Linked DNA regions of Homo sapiens: region 2 is linked to region 1. A link means that fine-mapping ties the variant in region 1 to the expression of a gene that starts in the linked region. Tissue or cell type: B cells. Region 1 holds a variant in brackets; the other region holds the start of a gene. All regions are shown on one strand. Distances are from middle to middle.

Region 1 (7,653 bases):
TAGCCTAAAGATGCTGACTACTTTCTTGGTCACAGACCACGGTGGGGATATGATGCAAGCCGCAGGCCCTCTTCCTGGAAAAATGCGTGCAGGTAAATACTTAGTGCACAATCTCAAGAGATTCAAAGACTCCTTGCAGCCCAGTCTAGGACCCCAGGCGAAGGTCTCTTCAGTGGCTCTTGAGTCAGTTCTGCCCAGAGATCAGAGCCACTAGAGTTCTGCCTAGAGTCAGGCGAGACTAGAGAACTGGGGTCCCGTGGGCCCCGCCTGCACCCCTTTGGAGGAAGGCAGCCAGGCCGAAGCAATCGGGTTCATAGTGGGGTCTTGGGAAGGGCCTGGCTCTGTGCTTTCTCACACGTTGAGCGCTGACGGCACACGCCTGTCTGATGATGGCTGGTCCAGGCTGCAGCATCTCTGTGGCTCACGGCTCCGTGCTGCCCCTTCTGCGCCTTCCTCGCCGTGGTGGCTGTCGGGTCCCTTACGTTTCAGGGACCATCCTGAAAATAAACAGCATGGGAGAAATCTTCCTGCAGGGAGCCAGGAGGACGCAGCGGCTCAGGGATTCAGGCATGCCAGAGCTCAAATCCCGAGTGTCACTTCCCAACGGGGCCTCCTAGACCCTCCCCCTGGACTTGCTGTGAGGGAGACAGGAGAGCTGTGTAAAGCCCAGCAGGCGCTGGCTGATGCGTGGACCATGGCGACCATTGCTGCAATTTTTTTATAATCAGAAATATAGGCTGGGCGCGGTGGCTCATGCCTGTAATCCTAGCACTTTGGGAGGCTGAGGCGGGCAGATCACTTGAGGCCAGGAGTTTGAGACCAGCCTGGCCAACATGGCGAAAACCCATCTCTACTAAAAATACAAAAAAAAATCCAGGCATGGTGGCGGCGTGTGCCTGTTATCCCAGCTACTCAGGAAGCTGAGGCAGGAGAATCACTGGAACTCGGGAGGCGGAGGTTGCAGTGAGCCAAGATCATGCCACTGCACTCCAGCCTGGGTGACAGAGCAAGAGTCTGTCTCAAAAAAAAAAAAAAAAAGAAATAAAGAAGTTGGATGAGCGTCACCTCCACACTCCAATCTTGCGTGTTGACATCTTACCTTTGGGATGCCTTTACAAATAAAATACTTGGTAAAAGTGTCTTGTATTTGGACTCTGTAGTGCTGAACATAGTGTGCGTATGTGTGTGTGTGTGTGTGTGTGTGTATATATATATATATAAAATGCCAATATAGTTAATTAAAATACCACTTAATGACTATTGCTTCTGGCTGTTATGAAGTAGCCAGCATAGATCACTACGTAGACAAGCTGGGTAAAATACGAATGCTCTTTTTGAAGACACTGGTGAGCAGCTGAGCCAATCGGGACTCAAAGGGCTGAGATCTCAGCAAAAGGGGAACCGCGGAGAGATGAGCCAACGCTGTTGCTCGCTTTTCATTCAGGGGATTTCCCAACTCCTGCTGCAAGACAAGAGACCATAAACACCCGTGAAGAGGAAGGGAAGCCAGCGGAGTTTCACAGGGCTGACACTGGAGTTTGGACCTGTCAAGGTAGCCAAAAATTGAGTGGCGATCTGAAGATCCTGGGGAGAAAGGTGGTGAAAATAAGTGAGTTTGATGCTCAGAGGTTTCCCTTCTAGCTGTTTGGTGGATGAACGTGTGCAGAGCAAGAAGCTAAGAAGCCCAGAAGAAAGCTACTGAGGTGTCAGAATTTCTAGAGTGTCAGGTAGCCCAGAATGAGAGCTTAGGACTTGCCAAGGAGGAGAAGCTCTAGAAGACGCTCCAGGCTCTCAGCCGGGATGCCAGGAAGCTTAATCGCTATGAAAGGGAACCAGAGGTATAGCCAAGCCTTCACAAATGTCAAGGAAAACCAAGAAACAGGACCCAGAGAAAAAAAATGATGACAGCAACAGCCCCACAGACTGCTCAGCTATTGGTAGCATCACAGATGGGCTTTCAAATTATTATTCGAGCAAATGGATGATAAAACAGAGAATTTTGCTAGACAACTGGAATCTATTACAAAATGGAAATTCTAGAAAAATGCAATGATTAAAATTAGAAACTTAATAGACAGGCTTAACAGTAGGCTAGGAAATAGAGTTTTAATAAAGTGAAATGATAAGTCAGGAAAAAAACTAGGAAGAAACAGAGTGAGTAGAAAAGGATAAGAAACAGACAGAGCATGCCATACACATGGGGTCTGGGGAGCAGCTCCATCATGCAGGTAACAGGAATTTTAGGAGGGAGAGAGAGAGAAAGAGAAAGAGAGAGGATAGGGAAAAAGCAATGTTTGAAGATAGAATGGCTGAGGATTTTCCAAAATCGATGAAAGAAAACAAACCCCAGATAGAAGCTCTCCACAGGCTAAGCAGGCTAGGTCCAGGGAGAAGCCACCTAGGCATATTATGGTAAAACTACTGTAATCCAAATACAGAAATCTTAAAAGTAGCTGGAGGTAAAGACAAATAGACAAATTACCTTCAAGGGGACAATAAGATTATTTTTCAGCAGAAATGATGGGCTCCAGAAGACAAGGGAGCAACGTGTTTACGGTGCTGGAAGAAAAGAGCTGTCACTCCAGAGTTCTAGACCCAGAGAGGAAGGACATCCTTCAGATACCAAGGAGACTCATCTCAGATCAGAGTTTTGGATGTGTCCATCTCCACCATGAGCTGGGGAAATCTAGGCGATGGAAACACAACTTGTGCCCCTCCGTGCCCCCTGGCACATGGCAGGTGCACACACACAGTGGGTGGAGACAGGAAGAGCGAGACTGGGCGTGTCCACCTGGCAGGCTGGTGAGCCATGAAGCCGAGTGTGGGGCACAGTGCCTGAAATGCTAG[T/C]TTCGAACCCCAGCTCTGCCGCTTAGTAACTGTGAGCAATGATTAATCTTATGTGTCAACCTGGCCGGGCGCGGTGGCTTGTGCTTGTAATCCCAGCACTTTGGGAGGTTGAGGTGGGTGGATCGCCTGAGGTCAGGAGTTTGAGACCAGCCTGACCAATATGGTGAAACCCCATCTTTACTGAAGATACAAAAATTAGCTGGGTGTGGTGGCGCATGCCTGTAGTCCAGCTACTCGGGAGGCTGAGGCAGAAGAATCGCTTGAACCTAGGAGGCGGATGTTGCAGTGGGCCGAGATCATGCCACCGCACTCCAGCCTGGACAACACAGTGAGACTCCATCTCAAAAAAAAAAAAAAACTTACGTGACAACCTGAATGGGTTACGGTGTGCCCAGGCATTTGGTCAAACATCATTCTGGATGAGATTAACATTTGATTGGTGGGCAGTCTGGATGAGATTAACATCTGATTGGTGGGCAGTGTGAAGCCAATTTTCCTCCCAGTGTGAGTGGGCCTCATCCAATCCTGAGAAGGAAAGAGTTGCCCTGCCTGGCTGTGGAGCTGGGACTTCGGTCTTCCCTTGCCCTTGAACTGACGCTTACACCATTGGCACTCCTGGGTCTCCACTTTGCCTGCTGCAGATGTTGAGACTTGTCAGCCTCCATGGTCACGTGCACAATTCCTTATTTTATAGATCAGTAGGAATATACATAGAAAGTGATGTGAACGTATGTCTCCTATTTGCCCTGTGTCTGCGGAGAATACTCACTAATACACTGTGTGACCCTGGGCAAGTTACTGAACCACGCTGAGCCTCAGGTTCCACATGGACAAATGGGGACAGGAGTAACACCCATCTCATCTGTCTCATAGGAGCTGATGAACAACAGCATGTAAAGTTTTTAGTTGCTCAATAAATACTAGTGATTGGCCGTGTTAAGGCCTTTAGCCCTAGATGACCACCAAAACAAAAGTGAAAGCAAAATAAACACTTTTCCAGCAAAATAAAAACCAAGATAATCAATTTCCAACAGACCTAAACTACAAGAAATACTAAAGGGGTTCTCCAGGCAGAAGAGAAATCATCCCAGATAGAGACGTGGATATGCAGGAAACAGTGACGAGCCACGGAACAGGTAAAGATCTGGGTCAAGGTAAATAAGTACCGACTTTTCAAATAATAACGATTTCTTGGCCAGGAGCAGTGGCTCACACCTGTAATCCCAACACTTTGAAAGGCCAAGGCAGTTGGGTTGCTTGAGCCTAGGAGTGAAAGACCAGCCTGGGCCACACAGGGAGACCCTGTGTCTACAAAAAATTTAAAAATTAGGCTGGGCGTGGTGGCTCACGCCTGTCATCCCAGCACTTTGGGAGGCCAAGGCAGGTGGATCACCTGAGGTCAAGAGATCGAGACTATCCTAGCCAACATGGTAAAATCCCATCTCTACTAAAAATACAAAAATTAGCTGGGTGTGGTGGCGGGCACCTGTAGTCCCAGCTACTCAGGAGGCTGAGGCAGGAGAATCGCTTGAACCCAGGAGGCGGAGGTTGCAGTGAGCCAAGATCACACCACTGCACTCCAGGCTGGGCGACAGAGCGAGACTCTGTCTCAAAAAAAAATAAAAAAATAAAAAAGAAAAAAAGAAAAAAAAAAAGAAAAAGAAGAAAAAAAGAAAGAAAGTTTGAACTAGAAAGAGTAAAAAGGTAGAAAGATGTTTTATGAAAACACTGACCAAAAGAAAGATGTCTCTATAACACCAGCTAGTATAAACTTGGAGGCAAAAAGTATTACAAAAAATAAAGATGAACTGTTTTTTGAGACAGAATCTCGCTCTGTTGCCCAGGCTGGAGTGCAGTGGCACAATCGTGGCTCATGCAACCTCCGCCTCCAGGGTTGGAGTGATTCTCCTGCCTCAGCCTCCTGAGTAACTGGGACTACAGGCGTGCACCACTATGTCTGGCTAATTTTTGTATTTTTAGTAGAGACAGGGTTTCACCATGTTGGCCAGGCTGGTCTTGAACTCCTGACCTCAGGTGATCTGCCCACCTCAGCCTCCCAAAGTGCTGGGATTACAGGCATGAGCCACCATGCCCGGCTAAGATGGACATTTCATAATAAAAGAATTATACCACCAGCAAAATGTAACAAACTTTTATGCACCTAATTATGAAGCTTCAAAATATGTAAGGAAAAATTTGGCTAAAAGGAAAAAGATGGACAAATCCATAATCACACTTTTTCTTATAACCAATAGGTCAAGCAGACCAAAAAATCACCAGAAATAAAGGAGATCCAAATACGAGGAACAAACTTGAACTAAATGACAAATATAGAACACAGTGTCCAACAACAGAATAGACATTATTTTCAAGTGCATATGAAACATCAGCCAACACTGACCAAAGCTGGGCCAGAAACAGCTAAAATAAGTTTTAAATGATTGAAATCATTCAGAATAGGTTTTCTTACTATAAGATATTTAAGCTGAAAACTCATAACCATCACAACAAAAATAAAACTGGAACATATCCAAATGTTTGGAAATTAAGTAATAACACTTCAAATGGGTCAAAGAAGAAATGACAATTAAGTTAGAAAATATTGTGAAGTATATGATAATTTTAAAAATGCAATATTAAAACTTATGGGATGTGGCTAAAGCTATGCTCACAGGCAAATTTATAGCCTTAAAACAGATGTATAAGAAAAACGGCAGAAAAATCAATCACGTAAGGCACTGTAGTGGATGCTATGATGTTCTGCCCAAATGTCCACTCTAAGACTGAAGTGCCCATGTTCCCAGCTGCTAGCCATGTTGCCAAGCTGAGCACTTCTCCAGGAATTGCCTCTCCTGAAGGGGCTACCTCCCCCAGGTTTAAGCCTGCTTCCTATAACTGGATGATATGGGAGCACAGAGTTCCTTGCTTTAACTGGGGACTCCAGAATCTAGAATGGGTCTGGCCTTGGGACCAGCCACAACGGCAGGTCCCTGAAAGAGAAATGAGGAAGTGAAGAATTGTGTCTGGTGGGTATATGCACTCAGTCCTGTGGAGAATATACCTACTTCAGGACATGAAAAGGCATGCCACAGAGGCAGAGAATGCTGTTGCCATCTAGACATCTGACAAAAGACACATCCAGATGTGCGAGAACTCCTACAGACGGATAAGCAAAAGACAACCAGTAGAAAAAGGGGCACAAGTCTGAACAGTCACTTTTAAGAATTGGATTTCCGGCCGGGCATGGTGGCGCATGACTGTAATCCCAGCTGCTCGGGAAGCTGAGGCAGGAGGATCGCTTCAACCCAGGAGGTGGAGGTTGTGGTGAACCGAGATCGCGCCATTGCACTCCGGCCTGGGCAATAGGAGCGAAACTCCGTCTAAAAAAAAAAAAAATGGAATTGGATTTCCGAGTGGCCATTAAGCATATGAAAAGTTGCTCAACCCCACTAGTTATGAGGGAAATGTAAGTAAAAGCCCTGTGGTACTGCTAGAACAAGTCAAACCGAAAACACGGACACACCCAGTGCTGGTGAGGGTGCACAGCAGCTGGATCTCACACCACTGATGGGTGTGTGGGCCACTTCAGCTCCCCCTGGAAAACAGGTGTTATCTGCAAAGCTGGACACGCTTGGACCCCAAGGCCCAGCAATCCCACCACCCAGTAGCAGGCGGCCACCATTGGAACTAGGCACAAAACCAGGAACTACGCATGTGTCCATTATCAGAATTGATACATTGTGCGTATTCACCGCTGTATACACAGCCCTGAGGGTGGACATGGTAGCTACATGCAGTGACGCCGATGACATGCGGATAGGAAGGAGCCAGGAAAGGGCATCAGAGAGGATTCCACGTGCATGGATTTTGAAACCAGCAAGTCTAACTATGGCTTTGGGAATCAGGACAATGGTTTTGTGGGGGCAGCTGATGGCTGGAGGATGGCTTCCGGTTCTGGTCGCGGCTTACTGATCAGCATTTTGTGAAAACCCATCAATCTGCCCGGTTTGGGGGCGTGCTGTTCTGCGTGGTAGGTGCTGGTCAGCAGTTACCTGTTAGTGGCTGGTGATCTGGGCGCTTGGGCACTCTGCCACCCAGCTCCCTCAGGCCCCTGACTGTCCACTGGCCTGTAACTGGTCCCCTCACCCTTTCCTGCCTACGCAGCCGTGGACCCGGCCAGTTTGGGCCCAAAGTGTTTCTGGTTTCTGGTGGGGTTTCTTGGCCTCAGTGTCTTGGGCCGAATGACCATGGTAGTCATAGCTTCTACTACCTGTTCTGGTGACAGCATCTTCCTCACTATTGTGGACTGAACTGTGTCCCTCCAAATTCATATCTTGAAGCCCTAACACTCATACAGTGAGTATATGTGGAGATGGGACTTTTAGAGAGTTATGGTTAAGGTTAGATGACATCATAAGGGTTGGGGGCCCTAATCCAATAGGGCTGGTGTCTTTAAAAGAAGAGGGGCCGGGTGCGGTGGCTCACGCCTGTAATCCCAGCACTTTGGAGGCCAAGGCGGGTGGATCACTTGAGGTCAGGAGTTCGAGACCAGCCTGGCCAACATGGTGAAATTCCCGTCTCTACTAAAAATACAAAAATTAGTCCGGCATGGTGGTGGATGCCTGTAGTCCCAGGTACCTGGGAGGCTGAGGCAGGAGAATTGCTTGAACCTGGGAGGTGGAGGTTGCAGTGAGCTGAGATCACACCATTGCACTCCAGCCTCTCTGTTTCAAAAAAAATAAAAAAATAAAAATAAATAAAAGAAGAGGAAGAGACACCAGAGACCCCTCTCTCCACGTACACACG
Region 2 (7,653 bases), 80 kb after region 1:
CTCTTCATTACAAACCAGCTCCTGTCCCCTTAAGCCTCACTCACCTGAACTCTTTGGCTCACGCCACCATTCAGCTCCCCAGAGTTCTGGAAGTAAGACCCCAGCTGATGACGGAGGCAGCGGCTGGCCTTCGGAGGACCTCACCTTTCTCTTCCCCTGCACTGCTTTGGGTTTGGGGTGTGCAGGGCCAGCCAGCTGACTGCTACCAGGGCAGACGCTGTCAGTGGTGACTGCCCTGCAGGCCTGCAAACATTTTGCCAGAGGGCCAGACCCAGGAGCAGAGGGGTCCTCTTCTCTTCCTCCTCCTCCCCTCCTGTCCTCTCCTCTCCCCTCCCTCCTATCCTTTCTCTTCCTCTCCACTCAGCAGAACAGACTGGAGCCCAGGTGTGGACAAGTGGCTTGAGTGTTTCCCTCTAGACTGATGGAGAGACAAGCTATGACTGAGAAAGGGGGTTCGGGCTGGGACCCCTGGGCCTAGTCCCAGTTCCATGTGGACCTGCCGGGTGGCCCCTTGCCTCTCTGAGCTTTCGGCTCTACTTCCCAGCTCGAGTCATCATCGGTCACCACAGACAAAAGGTGTTGTCCCCAAAGGAGCCACAACGGATGTGAGAGAGAGTCCCCTTAGGCTGAGGTGCTTGGGGACAGATCGGGCCACCTTGCCCAGCAGTACCCAAGCCCTTGGCCTCCCTTGTTGGAGGCTGAGCTCCCCAAACCCCTGTGAGGTCCTGCTAGTGACCAGCTCAGGACCACAGGGAACCTCTGGAAGCAGCTTAGAGCCCCGTTGGTGTCCTGGGAACTTCTGGGAGCAGTCCACCCAGACGCCAGCTTCCTCATGCTCAGCCAGCACAGAGACCAGCCTTTAAAAATATTATTCAACAAGCAATTCCCGGGACTGTTTACAAGACTGAGCCGAGACAGGCATATGAAATAGGCCAAAGTACCTTAAAAAGCGTCCCTCAGGGAAATTAAAAAAAAAAAGACCCAAACAAAAAAACAAAAAAACAAAACCTTCTTAGATCGCAGGTTGTGAATAAATGGATACTACTATAAAAATAGTTTTGGCTGTAGCAGCACATGGTGGGAAGGCTGGGGTGTTTTTTTCCATGGCTGGCTCAGACCTGGCCATTTCATATGGGGCAGCCACTATCCCGGGAGGTTTCGTGTAGAATCATTTGCACCAAAAAGCTCCAAACTGAGGGGGAGGATAAAAAGTAGTGGCCACAGAAATAACAAGCGGCATCGTCATTTTCCATCAAGGACCTGGTGTGTTTTCGGCGGCCGAGCACCCAGGCCCCTGCCCCATGGAAGAGAAGGGCGGGGCTGAGAGCCATTCACCGTCTGTGGGCACAGAGGCTGGATGTGAGCCCAGATCTGCAGGACTCCGGACTCCGTGCGCTCTCCACGTGGTCTCTAGAGCAGGGGATGACGCCTTCCGGTGTTTCTTAGGAACAGAGGGCCCTTCTGGAACCTTCAGCCTTCCCAGGAGGAACCCACATGGAAATCTGTCTGCATGTGCCTCCCCGACTCCAGGCACCAACAGCTCCTGAGTCTTGAGTTTTCAGGGACAAGGAGTGAGATGGGGGTGGGGTGGAGAGTCCAGCATGCCACACCGCCCACTATTGGGAGGTGACCTCAGACACTTCAGCCCAGCCTTCCCACCATTGCCTGGCGTGTCCTGACCTGCCGTCCGCGGCCTGCTGCTCCTTCTCTCTGCAGGCCGCTGCTCAGCCGGCCCTGCTGCCTGGGCGGCCACTGCCTGATGGAACCTCCCTGCTCCAAAACCTGACTCAAGAACCAGTGATCCCAAAAGCTGCCTGAGCCCTTTGGCTGGATAGAGCCTTGCTCTCCCTGCACTGAGCATAGGCGAACGGCCTGCCTAATTCAGCGTCATTTCATCATCATCATCATCACAATAACTGTCACACCGAGCTCGTCCTCCCGAGCGCAGACTCTCCATATTATCTCACTTAGTCATCTCAGTGACTCAGTGAGGAGGGAGTGGTTGTTCCCACTTTACAGATGAGAAAACTGAGATACAAGGAGGGAAGTGACCCAGCTAGGCCACACGGTTGGTAGGAGGTGGACCTGCAATCTGGCCCAGGCCTTGTCTATCTGGGACTCCCCCCCAACCCCCCAACCTGAGTACAGTCAGGAGGGGCCCAAGCAGTCACAGAGACAGGCCTGGAACGCGGCGGGCACATGGCACTTTTGCAGTGTATGTTGGTGCTTACGGGGGCTCTTTCTCAGTCCTATCCTTTGTTTGCCGCCCCCCTCCCTGGCAGGAGGAACTCAGTTTTAGAAGGGCAGTGGGTTGGGCCGGCATGCCATGTGCAGTGGGGAAGTGGGTCTGTTGTGGCTGTAACCACAGTGGGTGAGGACCAGGTGTCAACAGTGGCCCTCATCCCGGAGGGAGTGGGGCAGGCTGCCTGTTGGACAGGGTGTGTGAATAGGGGGACGGGGTGGCCTTTGGTAGGGGCCCAGGGGTCAGTGAAGAGGGGGAGGGGGAGAGGGCTGCCTTGGGCTCTGGCTGTGCTGGGGGTGGGCTGCCCAACCAGGGCACTTCTGTCCCAAGTGGAACCAAGACCTCCCACCGGAACAGGCCACCGGAGCCCTCGTGGAACCCAGCTCCGGGTGGCCCGACTTGAGGGGCACCCAGGCAGCAGGACACCTCTCTGGTCTCGGGCTGTTATCTTTGGGCCGTGTCATGGCTGTCCACACGCGGTCATCACCTCCTCACCTCCCTCCCCATTAGCGTCCCCTGACCCGGGCCACCACGCGCAGCCTGCGTGAATGGTCAGTCCCTGTGCCTCGCAGCCCGGGCCCTTAGGTCTAGGTGGTCAGCAAGCTCGCGGTGGGGGTGCGGAGGGAGGGCGCGGCGGGGCGCCTCGGCGCCTGCTCAGGAAGGCTGGGCTTGGCGGCGCGCAGGTAGCTCACACCCAAATCCGAATTCCAGCCGCCCGAGACGGCGGGCGGCGGGCGGCGCGCGGCGGAGGCGGCCCGAGCTGTCCCGGGGCAGGAGTGCTTCCTTTCGTTTTCAAACAAATCGTGAATTTAAAAGTCAGGCAGAGAACTACCCAGGGTATAAAAATAGCCACCGGCCACAAAGTCTGTGTCCAACTCCGGGCAGCGCCTGCCCAGCCTGGTGCCTTTGAAGAGGGGTCCCAGGAGTGCGGGTCGATGAGGAGGCGAAGCGCGCACCCCTCCTCGTTCCCGGTGGGCTCGTGGGTCTCTCCGTGGGGGTAGGGCGTGAAAGTGTGGGGTGGACCGGGGGTAGCGTCCGGAAGACGAAACCTTCCCCGGACGAGGAGCTTGTCCTCTGCCGTTGGGGCACATCGCCACTCCCGGGCCTCAGTTTCCCCACGTGTCCGCCGCGGCGGGGTGCGAGGTATGGGTGCCGCGGCCATCCCGCCCGGCTCTGCGCTTGCCTGGCCCGGGCCGGGGTCCCCTCGCGGCCACCGCCCGGCCGCTTTGTGTGGCCGCGCAGACAATGGCCCGGCCGCTGGGCTCCCGGCCCGGCTCTCCGCCTCCTCCGGGCCCTTGCGCGCAAGTGTGTGTGTGCGCGAGTGTGTGGCGGGCCCGGGGAGGGAGTTCTGCTCCCGCCCCCGCCCCCGCCCCGCTCCCTCTGCGCCCCGCCCCCTCCCACGCCGCCTCCTCGCGGCTCCCGGGAACCCCTGGCGGAGGCGAACTCGCAAGTTTGCACGGCGCTCTCAACTCGGCGGCCGGGCGGGCGGCGATCGCGGGGCGGCGGCGGCGGAGGGGGGCGCGCTCCGGGCGGGGCTGGGCGGGCGGGGCGCGGGCCGAGCGGTGGCGGCGGCGCTGCGCCGAGTCAGCGCCCGTCGCGGGCCCCCCGCCACCCCCCCGCCGGCGCCGCAGCGCCGCGGTCGGAGCGGGGCGCGGGCGCGCGGCGGCGGGGGCGCGGGCCGGGCGCGCGCGGCGGCGGCGCGCAGACACAAGTAGTTTACATTGTTGGGCGACTTTTGCAACAACTCGCCGCGCCGCGGCCTCCGCGCGCCGCCGCCGCCACCGCAGCCGCCGGCTCCCCGCCGCCCGGGCCCGGGCCGGCCGCGCCGGGGGCCGCCGCGCCCGCCGCCCGCTGCCTGCGCCGCCGGCCGGGCATGAGTTAGTCGCAGACATGGACACCAAACATTTCCTGCCGCTCGGTGAGTGCTCGCCGGGCCGGGCGGGGACGGGGCCGGGGGCCGGGGGCCGGCGGGCGGGAGGGGGCCGGGGGCGCGTTGGCGGCGCGCGCGGGGGGTCGCCGGCCCGGGCCCCGCTCGGACCCCTCGCCGACCTTCGCGTGAGTTCGGGCGCCGGGCCCGGGGAGGGTCGACCCGGGGCAACTTTTCGCGGGGCCGGGGCGGGGCTGGGCAGCGGGCGGGCGGCGGGGCCGGGGGGCGGGTGGCAGGTTCGCCCGGGACGAGGAGGGGTCTCCCGCTCACCGGCGGCCGCCTGCGCCCCGGCGCCCAGCTGCAGCCGCGCCGCACAGGAACCCGGCCGGAGCGGGAGGAGCAACTTCTGCGCTCCGCGGCTCCGGCCTCCCTGGCCTGGGGACCGGGACGGCGCGCTGGGCCCCGAGCGGCCTCTGCGCCGCCCGCCCGTCGGGCTGCGGCTTCTAGCAGGCCGCTGGCCCTTGGGTGTGTGTCCGCCCAGGAAACAGACTGGGACCCTGTTATCCCCAAAGCAGCCCACGCCCGGGTGGGCAGGGTCCCCCGGGGCTGTATGAACAGAACGTCAGACCTGGGAAGGCCCCATTCCAGAAATGGGGCCCCTCACTCTGGCACCCCCGGGTGTTCTCCCAGGCTGGCTCTCCATTTGTGAGCAGGACAGCGCAGAGGCGCGTAGGGTCAGTTTCCCTCCTCCTCCTGCCATCCCGCCCGGTAGCTTCCTATCCCAGACTGCCCGCCAACTCCAGGCCCAGACCTACCGAGAAGGGGGAGAGGGCATGGCTGGGGCCCCCACCCATTGCCCTCCCAAGGGTTTGGAAGCTAGTGAGAAGGGGGAGACTTTATAAATTAGCTCCGGGAAGGATATTAATTTGGTGGTGGGACGGCAGCCAGGCTGTCAGGCCGGGTGAAGGATTTGTGCTGAATGGAAATCGAAACAGCTGATTATGAATGAAGCCCCCGCCATCCGTAGCCCCTCCTGCCCACCCTCCCTGCAGCCTGGGGTGCAGCTTGGCCACCCCAGGAGGTGCTCAGAAGCCAATGTAGCTGCAGGGATGTTTAGTGAGATGGGGCATCAAGGGGAGCCAGCATGGACCTAGCCCCTCCTGGATGTGAGGGTGAGAGTCTGAGTACCTCTGCTACTCACAGGCAGGTGTGCTGCCCCGTGACCGGGGCAGGCGGTGGGTTCCAGGTTTGTCAGACCTAACGCTTACTCCCTGCCTCTGTCATGATGGAGTGGTGGGCTCGAGGCCTTGAATGAGCTCCAGGGCTCAGCCTCCAGGGGTGGGCGCTCATGCCCATTTTGCAGATGAGAAAACTGGCTGGGAGAGGCTGAGCCCCCAGGATACAAGGTGGTGGATTTGGGATTAGCACCCCCAGCTCGTGGTACTGCTGAGTGTGAGGCAGGAGGGAATGCTGCGCTGTCTGTGACCGAGTGCAGTGTGGAGTGGGCTGGGGCTGCCTTTCCCTGTTAAAGCTTTGCACTCACACATGTGCACACACACATCCACACACACAGAGCTAGGCTCTCCCAGACGATTCCTCTGGAACAAGAATGCTCAGCTCAGTGTCTGGCCCCTGGACGTGGCAGGGGCCTGGCTGGTTGCACTTCAGCTGAGTACTGAGAACCGAACAGGTCCCTGTTTCTAATGCTCCGGGTGGGACAGGGATAGTCCACGGAGTTGGTGGATGTAGGGCGAGGGAGCAAGGGGTGCCCAGTCGCCATGGTGGCTTGCTGGAGTCCCTGTGAGGAGGAGAGGTCGTGCCTCCGAGCCACTGCCCCAGGGATCTCCCTGGGCACTCCCCTGCCACAAGGAAGCTAGGAGTCTTCTGTTCTCGAGCAGCAGCTCTCCCGACCGGCCCATGGCCTCCCAGGCAGCCCACGCCCCAGGGCTGAGCAGAGAGCCCTGGGCTCTGATTACATTTTATTTTTTTTCTAAGCTTGTGACCAGCTCTGAAGTCCAGAGCAGTCGAAGGTCCATTTAAGCGGCTACTTTTCTAAGCCCTTTTGTCAACACAGCCTAATCCCTCCTCGGGGTGAGTGGTGGTGGAGGGCCTGGCTTGTCTTGGCCCGGCTGGCCGACCGGTCAGACCTGGAGCTGCTGGGGAGACTCGGCCACCCCTTACAGCTGCCCAGCCGCTTTTGGGGTCTGGGGTAGAGAGGGCTTCCTCCTCCCAGCATTCACTACCGCTGGGCTTGGTGGGCAGGGAGAGGATCCCAGTCGGTGTCCACCGAGCCGCTCAGTGAGGGCAGGGATGAGTGCAGCGTCCAGATCTGGAAGGAAAGCAAGGCCGAGGGACTCGCCAGAGGCAGCCCCAGCTTCCTGGCCCTGCTGCCCGGGGCTGGCCGCGCTCCCACGCCTGCCGGGGAGAAGGCCCCCGCTGGCCTTATCCTGAATGGTGGGACTCAGGCGGAGTCCACAGAGTCCAAAGGTCTCAGACCACACCAGACCCCATGCGCCTGTGGAGAGACCCGGTGGCAAAGCTGTAGGCCCGCTGACCACTCTTGGAGTTGGGGCACTTGGGGGCCTGGGTGAGCTTGCAGCCTGTGTGAGGGGCTTCTGGTAACATCAGAGCCCTTGGGACCCAAAATAGAGCACATTCCGGGGCCTCCCGAAATAACAGGGTCATGTGACTCTCAGGAGGCTGGGCTTGGAGTCCCGCTCGGGCCTGACGAGGGCGTCTTTTAGCGCGGGCGCTGCCCGACGGCAGGGTGTTTGTTTTGGTAAACTCTGGAGGGGCCCTGTTTGTTGACTGGGGAGGTGTCAGGGAGAGAAAAATGGCCCAGTCCGATGGTGGCCCTGGCTTGCTAGCCTCCAACCTTGCCTAGGGCTGGCTGCTGGGCCTGGACCCGAGCATGCAGCTGTGACCCTCTGCCCAGATGTGGATGGGACGAGCTGGGCCCCTAGGAAGGGCTGGTGGGGGGCGGGTGCTCTGAGTCCCTTGGGGTGTGGGGTGCAGGTTGAGCCGGCAGCCCTGGTCACGCGGGCAGCTGCTGTGACTGGCTCCCGGCTCTGCCAGCACCTGGTGGTTCTTCCAGCTGTGCCTGTCCTTCAGGGCCTGTGGGGGGCTCACCTCCACCAGGAGGCCCCTCTGACTGCCCTCTCTTGGCCCCTGCCCCATCTCCCCCGTGGCTGTGTGGGAGGTCGCTGTCAGTGGTCTTTGTTTCCTCCCCTGGGAAAGGGTGCCTGCAGGATTTGCTGTGGAATTACTGTGGGAACAGGGGGTACTCAGGGGTGTGCCCCTCTGCCCCTGGGGCCTGGTCGTGCATGTGGCAGGGGGCTCTGGCATCAGGAGAGGGTGGGACAGACCTCAGCTGCATGGAAGGTGGTGTGGGGGCGGGGTGAAAGCTTTACAGGTCCACCCAGTGCCAGTGGAGGCTGCCTGGGGAGTTTCCTTTCTTGGGTGACGTTTGGTTTTGCCATGGGTCAAATGTTTCAGGGCTGGGACCTCGAGTGGTGAGCAATGCCTGTCCTCTGGAGAAGAGGGC

Alleles and levels. Alleles are on the strand shown, and positions count from the first base shown. SD is a standard deviation of normalised expression in the study named.
For the expression in B cells of the gene that starts at base 3,956 in region 2, allele T in region 1 goes with a higher level than allele C (moderate effect, 0.45 SD a copy in Fairfax 2012).

The links. PIP is the estimated chance that this variant, and not a neighbour inherited with it, causes the effect.
Region 2: RXRA starts here. The variant in region 1 is fine-mapped to the expression of RXRA in B cells (Fairfax 2012, PIP 0.95).

The regions. Positions count from the first base shown.
Region 1 is chr9:134,242,552-134,250,204 of GRCh38, forward strand. No RefSeq gene overlaps it. Among named protein-coding and RNA genes, the nearest start is that of LINC02247, 49 kb to the right of the region's middle. RefSeq lists an enhancer at 1,388-1,507. The variant T/C (reference allele first, on the strand shown) is at 2,848.
Region 2 is chr9:134,322,500-134,330,152 of GRCh38, forward strand. RXRA (retinoid X receptor alpha) reads left to right here and starts at 3,956. Exons shown (of 10, transcript NM_002957.6): 1 at 3,956-4,160. The coding sequence starts at 4,133. RefSeq lists silencers at 3,454-3,633, 3,704-3,753, 4,492-4,631 and enhancers at 5,242-6,171, 6,172-7,101.